2 separate regions of the Homo sapiens genome follow, and region 1 is linked to region 2. Evidence: fine-mapped QTL for protein levels in blood plasma. A gene starts in region 2. The other region holds a variant in brackets. All regions are shown on one strand. Distances are between the middles of the regions.

The links. PIP is the posterior inclusion probability: the model's chance that the variant is causal. The UK Biobank Pharma Proteomics Project read protein levels with antibody pairs (Olink). The fine-mapping took linkage between variants from a reference panel, not from the people measured, so its PIPs are less certain.
Region 1: its variant is fine-mapped to the plasma level of the GALNT2 protein (UK Biobank, PIP above 0.99). The variant lies in the coding sequence of GALNT2. If it changes the protein, the assay may bind it differently, which can mimic a change of level.

What each region holds. Positions count from the first base shown.
Region 1 is chr1:230,248,326-230,253,690 of GRCh38, forward strand. GALNT2 (polypeptide N-acetylgalactosaminyltransferase 2) reads left to right here. Exons shown (of 16, transcript NM_004481.5): 9 at 859-946; 10 at 2,132-2,235. Among named protein-coding and RNA genes, the nearest start is that of PGBD5, 180 kb to the right of the region's middle. RefSeq lists enhancers at 3,018-3,679, 3,680-4,340. The variant A/C (reference allele first, on the strand shown) is at 2,167.
Region 2 is chr1:230,064,330-230,069,694 of GRCh38, forward strand. GALNT2 (polypeptide N-acetylgalactosaminyltransferase 2) reads left to right here and starts at 2,909. Exons shown (of 16, transcript NM_004481.5): 1 at 2,909-3,077. The coding sequence starts at 2,952. RefSeq lists enhancers at 2,125-2,284, 4,639-4,718 and silencers at 2,415-3,224, 3,665-3,724.

The DNA.
Region 1 (5,365 bases), 180 kb after region 2:
TAGAGTCATTAGGTTTTGCTGTCAGACCCTTGGAATTGGAAATGCAGCACCATGAGCCATGTGTTTGCCAAGAAGTGGCCTCCTGATGCACCAGGACAGCTTCCGCAGGTGGAGCCTGCTGGCCTCCAAGAGGCACTATGTGTGTGACCCTGGGAGCAAGAGCGAGACCTGAGGCCCTGCAGATGCCCACAACCAAGTCCGGGTACAGGGTCTAGGCTCTTCTATCCTCAGGGGTCTGTGGATTCCAAAAATGAAATGCAACAGGTGCCAAATATATCTGAAATTGAAGCTTATTTGCCCAGCTTGGCAACTTCCGCTGGCTCATTTTCCCTTAAAGTTTTCATATTCCCAGCATGTTCCCACTCCATTCTTGCTGCAAATACAGTCTGAAGTTTGCTGGCCCAGGGAACTGACAAAGCCTCGTTCCCTCCCCAGCATTGCCTTCCCCTGGGGCAGTGTTGGAGGTACCACGGCTTGATTTTCATGTTGGATGCTCTTTTTCCTCACATCCTTACAGCCCTTGGACATGCCCTGGTTATCACCACACAGACCCCAGTTCTCTCCCCATATTTCATTTTTTCCTATGCATTTCAATATTAGAAAAGCCTGACTCACATTTTCTTTAGGGAGGGGCAGGGAGAAGATTTCAACATTCACCCTCACTGCCGGTCTCTCTCTTCAGCTACACCCACGCCCCCAGTCCCCTTCTCTCTCCTCCACACCTTCTTTTTTGGCTTTGTTTTGGTTTTCATTGAGTTCTGTCCAAACATCGAATATTTTTAAGCTGTGAGGAATGGGGGTGTCGGGAGGAAGTGGCCAGTCTCTTGTCAACACCCTGTTTCTTTTCCTGGCTGGCAGGTTTTGATTGGAACTTGGTATTCAAGTGGGATTACATGACGCCTGAGCAGAGAAGGTCCCGGCAGGGGAACCCAGTCGCCCCTATAAAGTAAGTGCCAGCATCCTTCAGGGTGCCCCTCCCAGATGAGACCCCAGGTTCCAGCTTCTTTGCTGGGCCCGCACCGCCTGGAGACCCAGTGGGGGCTGTTCACCTTCTGCCCTCCGGTTTCCCCTCGTCTCAGCTCAAAGATGAGCACCTTCCACCAGGTCATAGAATAAAATCCTTGGAGATTTCTTTTCCACAGTTGAAGTCTCACATAGGTTTATAAGGCCTATCTGCTAGGTCTGTGCATTCCTGTATGTTGATAATGTAGAGCGTTTCTGTAGCAGAGCAGGATCTCCGAGCTGACCCCAGGCCCAGGAAAAGGGGCTTGGTGGGCAGCAGGAGGCTTACTGCTGCTACTGCCCAGCAGGCCTTTGCTCTCCTGCAGAGGAAGGAGCCCATGCTCATGAAGCCCATGCTTTTAAGATTCCCAGGCCGGGCGGTGGGCTTTCTGGTTGAGAGTCAGGATGCCTTCTCTAGCTGGGGAGAGAAGGGGGCCACCTCTTCCAAGTTGGCACACGGTTAAGTGAGATAGCATTCACAGAGTACTTAGCGCTGAAATATATTTGCTGACATTTAGCCAACATCTGCAGTGTGCCATAGACCTTCCCAGCACTTTACACTGAATTCGCACAGCATCGCTTCTGGGAACAAAGTAGGGAGCTCAGTGTACATCTGTTGTCAACCCCTTCCTGGGATGATGAAGTGAGGAGCATGGTGGGTTCCCTTGTAGGAGGTGGAGTCTCATCTATGATAGTGATAATGAGAGCTGGTGCTGTGGAGCATTTCCTAAGCGTGCTCAGGGCTTTATGCCCATGATTTTTTGCAATCCTCGTAGCTACCCTATAAGGAAACTGACACACAGAAAGGCCGAGTTCTTTGCCTATGGCAGCATGTCAGTGAGTAGTGATCCAGCCCCAGCAGTCGCTCCCACATAGGGGAGGCTCAGTCCAGCCCCTGGCACTGTGGGAACATCCAGGCAGGGACAGTGGGGGAGGCATTTGAAGGCAGCAGTGGTGAAGCAGAGAGAGTGGCATGCTGGGCACTGAGCAGAAAACAGTGGCAGTGTGGCTGTTCTGAAGATCAGCTTATTGTTAGGGAATCAAGGCTTGGCCTTGGCGCAAGGGTGCTGGCAATCTAACCTTGACTTTGCCCTCTCCTCCCTCCCCCCTCTTCTTTCTGCCTCTTTAGAACCCCCATGATTGCTGGTGGGCTGTTTGTGATGG[A/C]TAAGTTCTATTTTGAAGAACTGGGGAAGTACGACATGATGATGGATGTGTGGGGAGGAGAGAACCTAGGTATGTACAAGCCTCAAATCTCAGGACAGAGAAGTGCCTCAGCTCTGCAAAAGGCAGGGTGCCAATTGGAAAAAAAATTTAAAAGGCTTCAGAGTGACCATTCACTGGGCTTAATCGATCCTTGCAAACACATATGTAACACCCCTTTTGCTCTTGAAAGTCTCATGAGTTGGGCATTAAAATGTGCCTCCCTAGGTTAGAGTGGAGGATGCCAGAATACGGATAAAGTCTTTGAAGGGAAATGCAAACTCTTTCAAGGCGTCTGAACCCAAGTGTTTGGAATGTTGCAGGCTTGCAAAAACAGAGGGAAACAGTCCAGGAGCTCAGATTCATGCTGAGTGGTGGAGAGTGGAAAATGAACCCCGGCGAGGCTGGTGGGATTGATTGAATTGAAATCATGAAAATCCGATGGGGCAGGGAGGCCTTGGCACTTAATCCCTTCTCGACTACCTTTGCGAATGGTTCTCATTTGTTTTTCTGTTTGTTTGTTTTTTTGTTTTTAAATACCCCATGCAAATTATTTTTACCCAGGTTTAGGCACAGCAAAATTTTGCACATTGTGGTCTATATTGGTAGCCTTATATTTACTGCATAAAAGATGAAAAGATGTGTTTTGTTTGTTTAGGGTTTGGAGTGGGGGAGATCTTTTTTGCTTGTTTCAATTAAAGCCTTTTGTTTCAAATGCTTGACATTCTGAGCGAATTCTCCTGGGCTGCTGAGTGTTGTTAACTTACATTCGTCCTTGGGTGAGTGTACCCTGGAGGACAGGGGAGAAGGAAAGGGGAAAATGAGGCCACTCATTTTTAATAGTTTTGAGACTTTGAAAGTTTTTGTTACTTTAAAAGAAAAGACTAGCCTAGCCTATTATTTTTCCATTGTTTTATGATGTTGAAGTCAGTGATACCATCTCATCTTTGAGGATTTCTCTGCCTTGGTTTGATGTTGAAAGCTTCTTTAGGCTCGATTACTATACTGCACGGGTGGAGAGACCGTGAGTCAAACTCCTTTTGGGTTGTTTTAAAAAAATGATACATTAACCTCTAGGGAAAGCTTGGATTGAAGTCACTTGAGTACAAAAGGCTTCAGAATTGTTAACCCTCTAAAGAGAGTTCTGTCACCCTGTTCCATGGGTATCCCCTAATGGTTTAGTGGAAATCCAGCAGGCCAGGGTCGCCCAGTAGGGCAGCGTATCGTGTAGGTGGCCATTTCTCAAAAACAGTGTGGTTTTCAGAAGTTTGCATACTATTAGCTGAAATGAGACATCAGCCAGCATTTTGTGTCATCGTGTAGGAAGAGTGTTGATTTACATATCTAAGGAGGCATTCACCCAGAGACTGGGGGGTAGATTTGTTGTAAGGAGCTGCTTTATTGTGGTTTGGTGTTTGTATTTATTATGTAGCTGTGCTAGAAGGTTCTAGGGTCTGAGCGGTTCAGGTTGGGGTGAAGATGAACCCTGCAAGCAGGAGCACATCTCTGCCCAGGAAGGCTGGGGCATCTGTCCCTCCGTGAGGGGCTCTCCTGGGTTATGCCAAGGACTTGGACTCCCAGTGAGGTTTGGAGGGCTCAAGAGCTTCACGTGAGAAGGCCATGCCGTGAGCCTTTCTCCTTAGCACTGCTCTAGCTTCTGCTTCTGGGGGCCGTGCACACTACTAGCCATTGCCAACCTGAGGGGCCTCTGTGGGTGTGCATTGGGAGAGGTGTATGGTGCAGAGAGGCCCGAGTAAGATCCAAAACCACCTCCTCAACGTGTGCCCCGCTGGAATGACCAGAGCTTCCCATTTTCCTAATCATGTAAGTCCTTATGTCATTTAAGCAATTAAAATGGAGGACCAAGAACCTAACCCTTAACTCTAACAATGGGGGTAAGGCTCCTTGGGGGCATCATCTGTGTTTCTCTACATCCCTGTCATGCAAGGATGATGCTAAGTACTTCCAGGGAATCATCTGTTTGTGCTTTCTTAACGGAGTGTGGTCTGCAGAGGTCATGACACCTTGCCCAGGGTCTCAGAACCAAGATGTAAACACTAACTGCCTAATTAAAAAGCCATTGAGTTTTACTGAGTAATTATCCTCAAAGTTATAGGGTTCAAATGAAATCAACGCTGAAGATACTGTAGTTATACTTAGCCTTGAAAATCTCCCACAAAAGCCCTGGAAGGATCCCTTGTTGGCTTAACAGATTCCCCATAGAGAAGCCAAGGGGATTTCCTAGCCCCTAATTCTAAATCTTGTGGTGAGGCAAATGGATATTTAAATTTTATTTTCTGAAATAGAGACAACTTCTTTTTTTTTTTTTTTTTTTTTTGAGATGGAGTCTCGCTCTGTCACCAGGCTGGAGTCCAGTGGCACATTCTTGGCTCACCGCAACGTTCGCCTCCCGGGTTCAAGTGATTCTCCTGCCTCAGCCTCCCAAGTAACTGGGATTACAGGCATGTGCCACCGTGCCCGGCTAATTTTTTGTATTTTTAGTAGAGACAGGGTTTCTCCATGTTGGTCAGGCTGGTCTCAAACTCCCAACCTCAGGTGATCCGCCTGCCTCGGCCTCCCAAAGTGTTGGGATTACAGGCATGAGCCACTGCGCCCAGCCGACAACTTCTTAGGTTGTGTTGGGAACTGTAAAAAGTAAAGTCGGAAACTTTCACTGCTTATGCTTATGTGATTGTAACCATACATTTTCTATTAGTACAAGAGAGTTGCTTATTAAAGCCCCGTAACAGCTGCATGGATCACCCATTCCTAGTGAGTGAGGCATTAGTTTGCTGGACCCAAGTAGAAACTCATGGTGTTCTGACCCCTGTGTTGTATTTCCTGCCATGTGCCTGGCATTCTGGGCACCTGTTGCCATAACTAGGTTGACTGCCTGCAGGATTTGCCATCAACTCACTGTATGGTCTGTGATGGACCCACCCTATTTCTGATCAATCTGCATTGGTGACAGTGACTGCACACTCTGTAGATACTATATGTGTATATTTTTACTTCTTTTAATTTGTTAATTGACAGATAATAATTGTGCATATTCATGGGATACATAGTGATGTTTTTAATACATATAATGTATGGTGATCAGATCAAGGAAATTAGCATATCCATCATCTCAAACATGTAGCATGTTTTTGTGTTGGGAACA
Region 2 (5,365 bases):
AATATACAAAATGCTCTCCATTAGTCACTCTGCTGGCTTCCTCAGCTGTCTCTTGGTTGGAGGAAGCTCATTCTCTAAGATTCCTCATGAAAGGCCCATGTGAGTCACGTTCTCTGAATTTTTGCATTCAGGTCATATCTGTTTGCCTACAACCTTGACACTTGAGGGCTGGGTATAAAAATCACTGCCTGGTACTTTTTTGTGTGTGTGTCATGGAGTCTCGCTCTGTCACCCAGGCTGGAGTGCAATGGCATGATCTCAGCTCACTGCAACCTCTGCCTCCCGGGTTCAAATGATTCTTCCACCTCAGCCTCTCGAGTAGCTGCGATTACAGGCACCTGCCGGCTAAGTTTCATATTTTTTTTAGTGATGGGGTTTCACCACTTTGGCCAGGCTGGTCTTGAACTCCTGACCTCAGGTGATCCACCCACTCTGGCCTCCCAAAGTGCTGGGATTACAGGCATGAGCCACTATGCCCAGCCTGCCTGGCACTTTTGTTCCTTGTTAATGCTGCTCCACTGTTGCCTGGCTTTGCATGTTGCTGTTCAGAAGTCTGATGCCAGCATAAATTTTTATCTCTATAAGCAATTTGATCTTTTTTGCCTTTAAAATCTAATCGTTTTACTAAAATATATTTAGGAGTTGATAATTCCAGATCATTTCCCAAGGTACATGGAAGTCACTTTTGACATGTACATTTAAATTTTCCCTTATTCCTGGATTATTTTCTGGGGTTATAGTTTTAATATTAATTAGGTTTTATTGTTTAATGTTTGTACTTTAGGGACTCCACTTAACATGTATTTTGGTCTTCCTTTCCTGGCTTTTATTTTAACCTCTTCTCTCTGAACCTTTTTACTTCTATCTTTATATTATTTTCAATTTCTTGATTGTTTTCTTGCCATTCTTCAGTGTCCTTTTACATATTTTCATTTGAATATATTTTCCCTTGGACACCTTGTAATTATTCTTTGTTTCTGGGATAGTTTTTGTCATTACTTTCAATTTCCTTCTTGAATTTGCTCAACCCTTGTTGCATTTCTTCCTAATTTTTGTCTAGTCTGTCTTCAGTTCTTGAAATTTCTTATCCTAGATATGTGTGTGTGTGTGTATGTGTATACAAATACGTGACACTTTGTTCAGTTTGACATGTGGTATTACAATTTTCTTATGCTTCATGGTTTTTATTGTGGGGGTTTTCATCAGCGAAAATGTTATGATTTATTTTTTATCATCAGAAATGTGATTTCTGTTTTCTTTTTGCAGAATCTTTAAATGCAGTTGATTTGATGTTTTTCTGTTACTAGGCATTTTGAGGCAGGGTTCCCGGTTCAAGAGTGTTTTCTTTTATCTGTGTACTGAAATGCAGTTTTTAATAGATAATGTTGGTGTTTGGGGAGGGGACTGGCTGTCTTCTCTTTCATTTCTGCAGGATTTGTAATTTTCCCTTCTGACTTCCTTCTTTCCCTTCATTGTCAGGCCTCTGAAGGACATTATCTTCTTTTCGTATTTATCTGACTTTTTCCCAGAAACAAGGCTCCTTCAAGCCTCTCACCTCTTGTCCCATTTTCTTTCAAATCTCTTCCCTTGATCAATAAGGCACCTGACCTCTGTTCAGTTTTTAGTTCTTGGTGTTGGACTTTCTATTTATAAAGAGGTGACAACCCTGTACTTCACTTAAGTCCTTGGCAATAGTGGAGGGAGCTCAGTTGGAATTTGGTATCTTTTCTTTCTTCTACTTAAGTAATTTAATGTTCAGTTCATGGCATTCTCTCTAAGTAATGCTGAAGGCTTGTTTTTGTTTCGTTGAGGATATGGGTACGGACTTATATCAGGCAGCTGCCATTATCCTCTGACCGAGAAGCTCCTGAAAACATTTAATATATCAAGTTCTAAGTAAAATTTCTGTCTTTCTTAGGAACACTGGAAGCTTTGCGTGTTGCAAGGGCATCACCAAGGTTACATAGATTATGTTACAAGACAGATCGTTTTCTTGTATCGTTAAAGATGCTTAATGTGCTTTTTAAAGAACGCAACGAATGAGAAAGAAAAGATTTTAAACAATATATTATTGCTTTCCTTCTTCCTCATTTTGTGTTTATTGAAAAGAACAACTCTACCATTGATAGCTCTGTCACCCACAGAAAAATGTTCTTTTGAAAATTACCTTCTCAGTTCCTACCAACTCAAAACCTCCACATCTGCCTATATAGATAAATAAAATCGATACCAGCGGGTCAGGAATGTTTTGCTGCAAGATTAGTGAGAAAACTGCAGCAAGCAGCAGCAAAGTCGGGTTCAAGCGGGCGGTTTGCACCAAAAACTCAGGTCAGTTGGCCAATAAGAGCAAGCCCGTTAAGGGTCTGAGGTGGCCCCAAAGACCAAGGCTGAAGAGGTGACAGTCTGGGCAGGAAGCACCGAGGCCACTACCGCCCCCGTAATCGAGAGGCCCCGTGTGCGTGAGCAAGGCTCTTTGCCCACGTGTGCGCGCGCTCCAGTCGGGTCCCGGGGCAGCCACCTGTCACTCACGGGGGAGGGGGCGGCCGGCGGGGGGAGCACGCTGAGGGGCGGGCGGCCGGGGGCGGGGCGGCGCCCAGGCCCTCACGGCGGAGCCCGGCGTGCTGCAGCCATGGAGACGCGGCAGTCCCCTCCCGCGGCCCGCGCCCCGGCCCCCGCAGCCGCCGCCGATTGGTCGCCCTTTGCTCCCTGACCCCCCTCGCCGCCTCCGAGGCCGCTGCTTCCTGCTCTGGTGCCGCGCGGCGCCGCCGGCCCGGGGCGGAGCTCGGGCGCCGAGTGCGCGCCGCCGCCGAGCAGTAGCACCGCGCGGGAGGAGGAGCCGCCGCCGCGCCCTTCCCCTTCCTCCGCTCCTCCCCCGGCCCCCACCGCGCCCGCGGCCGGCCCAGGCAGCACTCGCGAGCAGCGGCGGCCCCGCCGGCGGCCGAGTTGGGAGAATGCGGCGGCGCTCGCGGATGCTGCTCTGCTTCGCCTTCCTGTGGGTGCTGGGCATCGCCTACTACATGTACTCGGGGGGCGGCTCTGCGCTGGCCGGGGGCGCGGGCGGCGGCGCCGGCAGGAAGGTGAGTGGAGCGCCCTGCCGCGGCCGGGCCCCTGCGCCCACCCCCCACCCTGCGCCCCTGTCCCCTGCCCTCTCCGCGCCGCCCCTGCGCTCCTCCGCCCGGACCTCCGCTCGCGTCGCCCGCCCTCGTCCCGGGCCTCCGCGCCGAGTGCCCAGGGCAGGGGTGCACCCGGCCCCTCTGCGCACGCCGGGCTCCGAAAGGGCGGCCCCCGCAGCCTTTCTCTGCCCCCTCTCGTGGACGTCGCCCCTCTCTCTGCTCGTCGTAATTCGAGTCTTGTCCGGCCGCCGGGAGCCCCATCCCCTGCGGTTGGAAGTTTAGGGATGGGGGTGTTGGGAAACACAAAGGGGGTGGGGAGGAGAGGAGAGAGAGGCGACCGCTTTTCCAACGCGTCATGTACAGCAGGAGAGAGGAGTCCAAGTTTCTTTTCAGCCCTTTGATACCAGCGGCTGCAAATCCTCGTCCCTTTCCCCCTGTCACTCCGCGGGGCGTGGGTTCCGTGTTTCTGCCACCTTCTTTGCCCTTTACCTTTGGGGGGCAGGGGCGGCCGCTCCCGTGCCAAGTAAAGCCCCAGGGCCCGTGCGAGCCAGGGGCCAGTGCGCCCCTGCGCCCCGAGCGAGGCCAGTCCCGGCCGTTCCCTTGCGGCCCCAGCGTTACCCTCTGCCCAACCCGGCCCCCGGCCCTCCCGCGCGAGCCGGACGTGGCCTCCTGCGCTTGCATTTTCCATCCCCACTCCCCGCTTCAGGGAGAATCCCTCTTCTGTGGCTGTGTTTTTAACATGCTCCAGGGGCCGAGTGATCTGGCTGTGGGGACCGTGTGAGCCGCTCTGCGGTTCCGCGTCCTCGTGCCGCCGCTCCGGACGGCCGGGCCCTGGGCATTCGGGAGGATGGTGAGCGCCGAGAGGAGCCGGGACAGCGCGGTCCTGCGGCCGAGCGCCGGCCGGGAGAGCAGGGCGTCGGGCTGTGTGCTGGAGCATGCCGGCAGGGGACGTTTGTAGTGTTTTACTGGCTCCTCGGCTTTGAAAGCAGCGTTATCTTTTCCGAATTCCTGTAACCCTCGTTACTGTGACATTTAGTGTCACCGCAAACCCAGAAAATTCTGAGTTAATGGAGATGGACTACGGGTGGTTGGGTTGGAACAAGAGAGTGGTATCCTGAAACAAGCCAGAGGGAACTAACTAGATGAACAGACTTCAGTTCTGAAGTCAGACCCCTAAATGTCCACGCCGGGGTTTGGCTGCTTCAGAGGTTTTTTCTTTGCTTCATTCATTCATTCATAGCCGAAGATGTTAGGTGGAATGGGTGCCTTATGTGGTTTCTGGTAAATTACGTGGATTTGTTTTATCTAGAAGGGCAGAAATAAAGCCCTCTTTCCACGTGCTGAATCGGCCTAGCTTCTGAGCTGACATTGTACTCTTAGCGTTGTTTTTGTAAAAAATGGTATAGGTAGTATATGTACGCGAAGACTTGGTTTATTCTTGAACAGCAAAGAGCATGCAGGCAGCAAAAGCCGTGCAGTCCATTCAGAGATATAATCGTGTAAAACTGGAATGATTTTTAAAACTTTGCTTCCCGGTAAACTGTGCCTTGGCCACTCTGCATAGCCTGGTGTGCTGGTGAGACCTGGCAAAGCTTTCTGCCTTTCATGCAAAGAAAACCAAACACATAAGCCACCCTTGGCGTTTCTCTTTCCTTAGTCTGCCACTTTCATTAGTACACGTGATTAGAAAGAGCAAGCGTGCTCGTTCGCCTCCCGGAGGCTGATTCCTCACTCTGGTGGGCTTCAGTTCCTGGATGGTGTGAGGGGTCTTCCATGCAGAAGTCTTCAGACACTCCTGAAGTGTGTGATTCTTAGTTTGTTTTTTTTTGTTTTGTTTTGTTTTGTTTTGTTTTTTTTAAAGAATTCCTGGTGGCAATATAGACAGGTACGGAGACCAGGTAGAAAAAGTGGGGGAAATGAACAATTAATTACACATGGATTGGTGATTTGGGATTCTATTCTTTCTGTCAACGAACCATAAAATTTAATGCTACCCCTTAGGATGCTTTAGTGATTTGTCGGTTGAGGAAGAGGTGTGTAAATGCAATAGCTTTTGAAATTGCAGTGGAAGACTCATTAACTTCGTGTGGTGGACCCAGGGTTAAAGAGAAGCCTTAAGATGGTTTCTGAAGGAGGTAAATAGAGCCCTGCTGTCACGAATGCCTGATGTATAGGAAAATCGTGTAGTCTTCTTTCTTCCCCAATTGTTTCCATGGATTTAGACACTAGAAGTGTCTCTAAATTTATTTCAT